Homo sapiens: one gene and its partner. The protein of the gene in region 2 purifies or fractionates together with the protein of the main gene of each other region. This does not show direct contact. Each region holds a gene or a part of one and is shown on either strand. Other genes may lie near its edges. The genes, in order: SIDT2 and CLCN6.

Region 1 (3,812 bases), on a different chromosome or scaffold from region 2:
CTGGGGCGGGAACGCAGAATGTCCCTTTCTCAGGAAACGCCTGACCAGGCCAGGCCCACGGGTCAGACCTTGGTGCGAATGACATTCTTGTCGGAATCGATGTCGGTCAATGTGTCGTAGTCATCCTCCTCCACAGAGCTCATGGAGTCCACTCGGGGCCGAGTACCTACAGGTTCAAAGGAGCGGCCTGGAAAGGGCAGGGAGGGAGGGGTTGCACCGGTGGACACAAAACCCACAGTGGCCCTCGCCCATCTGAGGCAATTGTAACAATTATTAGGCAGTAGGGAAGAGGCAAATTGTGGGCTGGGCCTCAGAGTTGGGGTGGAAGTGGGCTCAGGAGCTGGGAGGAGACATCAGGTGCTCCTAAGTCCTGGGGGATGATGGTAGACTCTAGAAGAGGCCACCACACAGGGGCCGCTCTAGCTTTGCTCTGTTCCTGGCACCCCTCATGGGCTAGGGCTTCCCAGGCCAGGACACAAGGCAGACCCCAGGCAGCAGACACAAACAACAGGATTGAACTCGGCAAGTCATGCTGATTCAAGGGTGCCCAGCCCTGTGGGTTCTGAGAAGACACTGCCTTGGCTGCCACTGGGTTAAAGACCCAGTGGGCCTGGGGTGCAGAAAGAGCATTTCTCCTTTATCCAGAGGCCAGAATGTGACCCCCATGCCTGTGAGCCCTCCCCAAGCAGGCCAGGGAGTGAGGGCGCTGGCAACGCAGACGATAAACTAGATTGTCCAGCCTGGAGAGAGCGGAGGCGCCAGCCCGCCAGCCAAAGGAGCCTGTGCTCTGCTGCTATCTCAGAAGACACAAGAGCGGGCAATTACTGGAATTACATGGGGAAGCCATGCACATAGAATCTTTCTGGCCCCACAGCCGGCAGTCAACCGGAGCCGGCAGGCACTGATTGGCAAAACAGCCCTACCCCCACCCCAGGTCTACCCATGGCAATGCACAGCTGCCGCATCTGGCCAGAGGGGAGGCGCCGCTTGAACTGGTCGTGCCCTTCAAAGGAAAGGGAAAGTTACCAGGGAACTGGGGCCAAGGAGGAGGGGATGAGGGAAGAGAGGGGTTAGGAAGACAGCAGGCCCTTCCCAGGTTCCAGCATCTGGCAGAAGAGGCAACCGCCCACCGTGACATTTTACCCAGACAACACCGTCCTGCACCACACCGCCCCTCCCAGCCTGGCCCACTCACCCTGGTAACCGTAAGAGAGGTCCCCAGTGCCAGCGCTGTCAACCAGACCATCGGTAGATCCAGAAACATTCTCTGTGGGGAACGATCAGTGGTGAGGCAGGAAGGAGAGGCCGCAGGGAAAGGGGCTCTGAGCATCTGCAGAGGGTGTGGGGGCTGGAGGAGGTGGCTCCCACTTTACCGCCTCGGAGGTGGTGGCCTAAGGAGACAAGGTCATGTCCCCAGCAAGCACGGTGCTGGCTTTGACACGTACCAAAGGAGCCATAGTTGTAACCCTCATAAGGGGAACTGCCAGGAAAAGAATCAGCCAGGACTCGAGGGTGACCTGCAATGAGAAGTCAAGGTCTGTTAGCACTGGACGAAGAGAGAGGCCTAGAGCCAGGGAGAAGAACAAAGAAAGGTCCAGAGAAGACAGCCACAGGGAGGCCATGCCAGCAGACGAGAAGCAGCACCTATCCAGGCAAACACACCCCACTGCTGCCACCACCACCCGCCCCAGCCCCCTGCCTGCCTCTCCCATGGAAACAGCACCACCCTTTGTCTTCCCTAAGGAGAGAGAAAGTTCAAGAACAGGCACATCTAAGTTACCAGCAACAAAGACAACACTGGCCCGCCCACGAGCCCTCCAGACAGCCCTGTGCTGCACCCTCCCTCCCCTACTCTGGACTCCAGCTCCTCTGCCCACAGCACCTGGAGCTTACCAAGGAGAGAAGCTAAGAGAGAAGGTCCCACGCAGGAGGGAGGACAGAAAGAGAGGGAGGGGTGGAAGAGAGAGAGAAGGAAAGGTTAATAATCCCAGAGACCGTGGGCCACACTGCCCAAGGCAGGCAGACACCATCGCTAGACATGGAATAAACCAAGCAACACCTCAGCCTCTGAGGTGTGCATGTTAGGGATGCATGGACATCATATCCCAGCCTCATTCCCATCTGTGGAGTGTTACCCCCATCTGAACATCCAGAAACCCCCAGCCCTTCCTCCTCCAACCCCCTAGGGAACCATCCACCACCACCCCCCAAAACACAAAGCACACTGTGCCCGCCCCACCCAGGCCCCCTGGAGGTACCGCTTTCTGGGCAGGCTCGGTCAATGGCCACCAGCAGGGTCTTCTTCTTCTGCCTGCATGGACAGAACCCACAGGCCACCCAGATGGGACAGGACAAGGATCACTCTGTATGGGGCTGACTTTCCTTCTACCTCTCTGCTCCACTCTCATCGCTATGACCCTGTCCTCCACCCTTTGTCCCAGGGTTCCTCACAGGCTGGGGAGCAACATGGGATCTCCCTGCTTGGGAAGAAGGTTGAGGGGAGGGGATGGTTTCTAGAGAGGCTCATGGGCCACAGACTCTAACAGCCCCACCATCATCTGCTATGGATGGTGTAGATTACCCTAGGCTGGCTCAGATCCTGCCAGGTGATCTGCCCCACACACCTGCCCAAACCACCCAGACCAGGGGAGGCCCAGCAGTTCCACTTTACCTCCAGTTCTCCCAGCAGGCCAGGAGGACGGTCAGCAGGTAAAAGGAGAGAAATATACCCAGGCAAAAGAGCATCCCACTGACGTATGCCTCAGCTTCAAGGAGGAAACAGGAAGGTGGACAGGTCAAAACCTTCCACCACCTCCCATCATGGCACCCAAAGGCCTTCATGTCCTCCTCCACCCAGCTCAATCTCTCACCCTTCTCCCCTCAAATGTAAGGCCCTGCCTAGCCAGTATGAACAACTGGCAGTTCCTCTAATACACCAAACTCTGACACACTCCTATTTTTGCTCATGTTGCTCCCTGGGCTAGAACTTTCTCTTCTACTTTTTTTTTTTTTTTTTTTTTTTTGAGACGGGCTCACTCTGTTACCCATGCTGGAGTGCAGTGGCACGATCATAGCTCACTGCAGCCTCCAACTCCTAGGCTCCATCCTTCCACCTCAGCCTCCTGAGTAGCTGGGACTACAGATGTGTGCCACCACGCCTGGCTCATTTTTTTATTTTTTATAGAGATTGGGTCTCGCTATGTTGCTCAGGCTGGTCTTGAATTCCTGGCTTCAAGCAATTTCCCTGCCTCAGCCTCCCAAAGTTCTGGGATTATAGGCGTGAGCCACCGTGCCTGGCCTCTCAAAAATTCCACCTTGACTTAACCCTCAAACCACAGCTCAGGGACTGTGTCCTCTAGGAAGCTTTCTCTGTCCTGTATTTCCACAGTGACCTGTTCCTTGCTCACCACAGCTCTTAACTGCCTCCTGTTCCTCTAGACAGGACCCCGCCCCCACCAAGGACTGCTGCCTTAGCATACCACCTGGCATATAGGAGGTGCTCCATAAATATTTGCTGAATAAATAATCCATGTAAGAGAGGCACCCTGGCCGGGCGCGGTGGCTCACGCCTGTAATCTCAGCACTTTGGGAGCCGGGGCAGGTGGATCACGAGGTCAGGAGATTGAGACCATCCTGGCTAACACGGTGAAACTCCTTCTCTACTAAAAATACAAAAAATTAGCCGGGCGTGGTGGCGGGCACCTGTAGTCCCAGCTACTCGGTAGGCTGAGGCAGGAGAATGGCGTGAACCTGGGAGGTGGAGCTTGCAGTAAGCCGAGATTGCGCCACTGCACTCCAGCCTGGGCAACAGA
Region 2 (3,812 bases):
ACACACACACACACACACACACACACACACACACACAAACATACTTTGTCTTTTTTTTTTTTTGAGCCGTGGTATCTTTTGTTTGCTAATGAGATGAGTGGCGGCTGGGGGCCCTTAGATGGCTTCAGAAAAGGGGCTGGTCACCAGAAAGACCAAGGCAGGATTAGCGGGGTGGGACACCCATCCCTCCAGGGAGGAGACCGAAGCTGAAGGTTAAGCTGATCACCAAGGGCTGGTGATGTAATCAATCATGACTGCATAAAAAAGCTTCCATAAAACTCCAAAATGACAAGGTTCAGAGAGCTTCCAGACAGCTGAACCGTTTGGAGGTTCCTGGAGGGTAGCGTGCCTGGAGAGGGCATGAAAGCTCCGTGCCCCCTCCCACGTTCCTTGAATCTCTCCATCTGGCTGTTCTTCTGTATCCTTTATGATATCCTTTATTAATAAACTAGCAAATGTAAGTAGCATTTCTGTGTTTTCTGACCCGCTCTAGCAAGTTAACCAAACTCAAGGAGGGAGTCCTGTGAACCTTCAATTCACTGCCAGCTGCTGAGAAATGCAGGTGACAACCTACTACTTTTTTTTTTTGAGATGGGGTCTTTCTCTGTCACCCAGCATGGAGTGCAGTGGCATAATCTCGGTTCACTGCAACCTCCAACTCCTGGGCTTAAGCCATCCTCCCACCTCAGCCTCCTGAGTAGTGGGGAAACAACCTCCACATATCGGTGTTAGCAGTGTTCCGCGAGTGGTGCCTGAGAGCAGAGGAGAAACAATACCCTTGCCTTCATCCAAAATATGTATGGAAATTACTGGTCAAGTACTTCATTGATGGTTCCATCTAATAATGATATGGTTCCGTAAACATTTAGAAGGTTTTTAGATATCTAGAATAGGCAAATAGACAGAAAGGAGATCACTGGTTGCCTGGAGTCAGGGGCAAGGAGAACAGGCAGTGGCTGCTAATGAGTGCAGGGTTTCCTCTCAGGTGATGAAAATATTCTAAAATTGACTGTAGGAATTAGCTGGGCGCAGTGGCTCACGTCTGTAATCCCAGCACTTTGGGAGGCCAAGGCGGGCGGATCACCCGAGGCCAGGAGTTCAAGACCAGCCTGACCAACATGGAGAAGCCTCGTCTCTACTAAAAATACAAAATTAGCCGGGTGTGGTGGCAGACGCCTGTAATCCCAGCTACTTGGGAGGCTGAGGCAGGAGAATCACTTGAACCCGGGAGGCAGAGGTTGCAGTGAGCTGAGATCACAACATTGCACTCTTGCCTGGGCAACAAGAGCGAAACTCCGTCTCAAAAAAAAAAAAAAATTGACTGTAGGAATGGTTGTACAACTCTGTGAATATACTAATTTTTAAAACCCCATTGAATTGTACACTCTACATGGGTGAACTGAATAGTATGCCAATTATAGTGCAATAAAACTGCTAAGAAGGGCATTTAGAAACAACCGCAACGCTAGAACACCAGAATCCCTTTTTTTTTTGTCAGGGTCTCGCTCTGTCACCCAGGCTGGAGTGCAGTGGCGTGATCACAGCTCTCTGCAACCTCCGTCTCCTGGGCTCAAGCAATTCACCTGCTTCGATCTCCTGAGTAGGGGGGACCACAGGTTAGCCACCACACCTCGTTAATTTTTTCGTATTTGTTGTTGAGATGGAGTCTCGCCATGTTGCCCAGGCTGGTATGAAGTCCTGGGCTCAAGTGATCCACCTGCCTCAGCCTCCTAAAGTGTGGGGGTAACAGGTGTGGGCCACTGCACCCGGCCCCCTGCTAATTTTGAACAAATTTTTTTGTAGGAACAAAGTCTCACTTTATTGCCCAGGATGGTCTTGAACTCCTGGCTTTAAGCGATCCTCCTGCCTTGGCCTCCCAAAGTGCTGAGCATATAGGCGTGAGCCACTGTGCCACGCTTCTTTTTTTTTTAAATAAATTAGTTGAGTTTGGCCCTTTGTAAATATGTACCAATGGAATATATGAGCTATTATTAAAACCAGATACTGTTACTTCTCCTTTGCTATGACTAACTTTTTATTTCTGCAGTATATGTTGCTCTTTGGTTTAGGGGACTAACAACTTTTTAAAAAAATAAAATGTTATCTGTGTCTTGCAGGGCTGTTACAGGGGGTTACGAGCAAAATGGCACCTGGCCGGGAGGGAGGTGGGGGCTGAACCAGCCCCAATTCAACCAGGAAGGGGCATCTTAGTGTTCACACCAAAACCACCTTCAACTGGTTGTGAGCTAGGGGTGCTGCTATGGCCAGTGGGGGAGGCCTTTAATTCTAAGTCTTACGTTCTGAGTGTGCCTCTTTCTAATTCAAAGGTACAATATAAATAGACTGTGTGACCTGCATGAAAACATTCCTGTTTGCAATGGCACATCTCACAGAAAGTTACCATTTTTCAAACCACCTATAATGAGAATGGATGTCAAAATGGGATTCTAACATTTTGTAAGACCCTAAATTTATCAAATAAAGAGTCAAATATGTGCAATGAACTCTTCCTGAGACAGGAAGAAGGGGCACTTTTTAGAAAGATATTCAACAGAAGGGTTTTCTAGTTGACTGACTATCAAGGTAGAGAAAACCCTATAACTCCATTCATTAAAATATGACTATTAATACCTTACTAAATATCCTTCTACATCCTTACCCACGTTTTTATACACATGCTTTTAACACGTGTTTTAAATAACAAAAATGAGATTCCACTAAATCAACTATTTTAACCTGTCCCACTCACTCCCCTCTTTATTATACTTTTTGTGTCAAGTTGATTTATTTATTGAATAAATAAAATCCAGACTTTTCTGTTTAAGTGCCTGAATTTGTTCTTACACAAAGCAAGTGCTCTCAAGAAGCTCATTCTTGAAGATGGTTGAGAAATATCAATGACCAATATCAAAAGAACATTAACCCATGAAATGTACATGAATATGGCCACGCGTGGTGGCTCACGCTTGTAATCCCAGTACTTTGGGAGGCTGAGGTGGGTGGATCACCTGAGGTCAGGAGTTCAAGACCAGCCTGACCAACATGGTGAAACCCCATCTCTACTAAAAATACAAAACTTAGCCAGGCATGGTGGTGTATGCATGTAGTCCCAGCTACTTGGGAGGCTGAGGTAGGAGAACAGCTTGAACTCAGAGGCGGGGGTGGAGGTCGCAGTGATCCAAGACCGTACCACTGCATTCCAGCCTGGGCGACAGAGTGAGACTCTGTCTCAAACAATGACAAGAACAACAAAAATTTACATGAATATGCATATCAGCTGAAGGCAAGCACATTACAAATGTAAGTACAATTTAGTAGAAGGGGTGAGGGAGCCTGGGTGTCAATGGGGAAGCCTTGGTGAGCTCCTAGAAGTAGGATGAAGGCTGTGAGACAGTCTCAGTCCTGGTGATACAGTCAGGATGATGTAACAGGGTTCAGTGAGGGAGTGCAAGGTGACAGAACAATATGGAGTATCTTATACTAATTCCTGCAAACTTCTCAACTATGTACAAGAAAACAAATACTTACGAAACAGAAGAAAATGGCCAGGTATAGTGGCTCATACCTGTAATCCCAGCACTCTGGGAGACCGAAGCAGTATCACCTGAGGTCAGGAGTTCGAGACCAGCCTGGCCAACATGGTGAAACCCTATCTCTACTAAAAATACAAAAATTAGCCGGGCATGGTGGTGGGCGCCTGTAATCCCATCTACTCGGGAGGCTGGGGCAGAAGAACCGCTTGAACCTAGGGTGGGGTGGAGGTTGCAGTGAGCTGAGATCGAGCCATTGCACTCCAACCTGGGCACTAAGAG

The links.
Region 1: the proteins of CLCN6 (region 2) and SIDT2 fractionate together in Homo sapiens (co-fractionation; one large-scale study listed by BioGRID). This does not show direct contact.

The regions. Positions count from the first base shown.
Region 1 is NC_000011.10:117,185,083-117,188,894, reverse strand, and holds part of SIDT2 (SID1 transmembrane family member 2 precursor), read right to left. Parts: intron 2,766-3,812; coding exon 2,672-2,765; intron 2,312-2,671; coding exon 2,259-2,311; intron 1,518-2,258; coding exon 1,446-1,517; intron 1,268-1,445; coding exon 1,196-1,267; intron 188-1,195; coding exon 69-187; intron 1-68.
Region 2 is NC_000001.11:11,808,890-11,812,701, reverse strand, and holds part of CLCN6 (H(+)/Cl(-) exchange transporter 6), read right to left. Parts: intron 1-3,812. UniProt on the Homo sapiens protein: Voltage-gated channel mediating the exchange of chloride ions against protons. Functions as antiporter and contributes to the acidification of the late endosome lumen.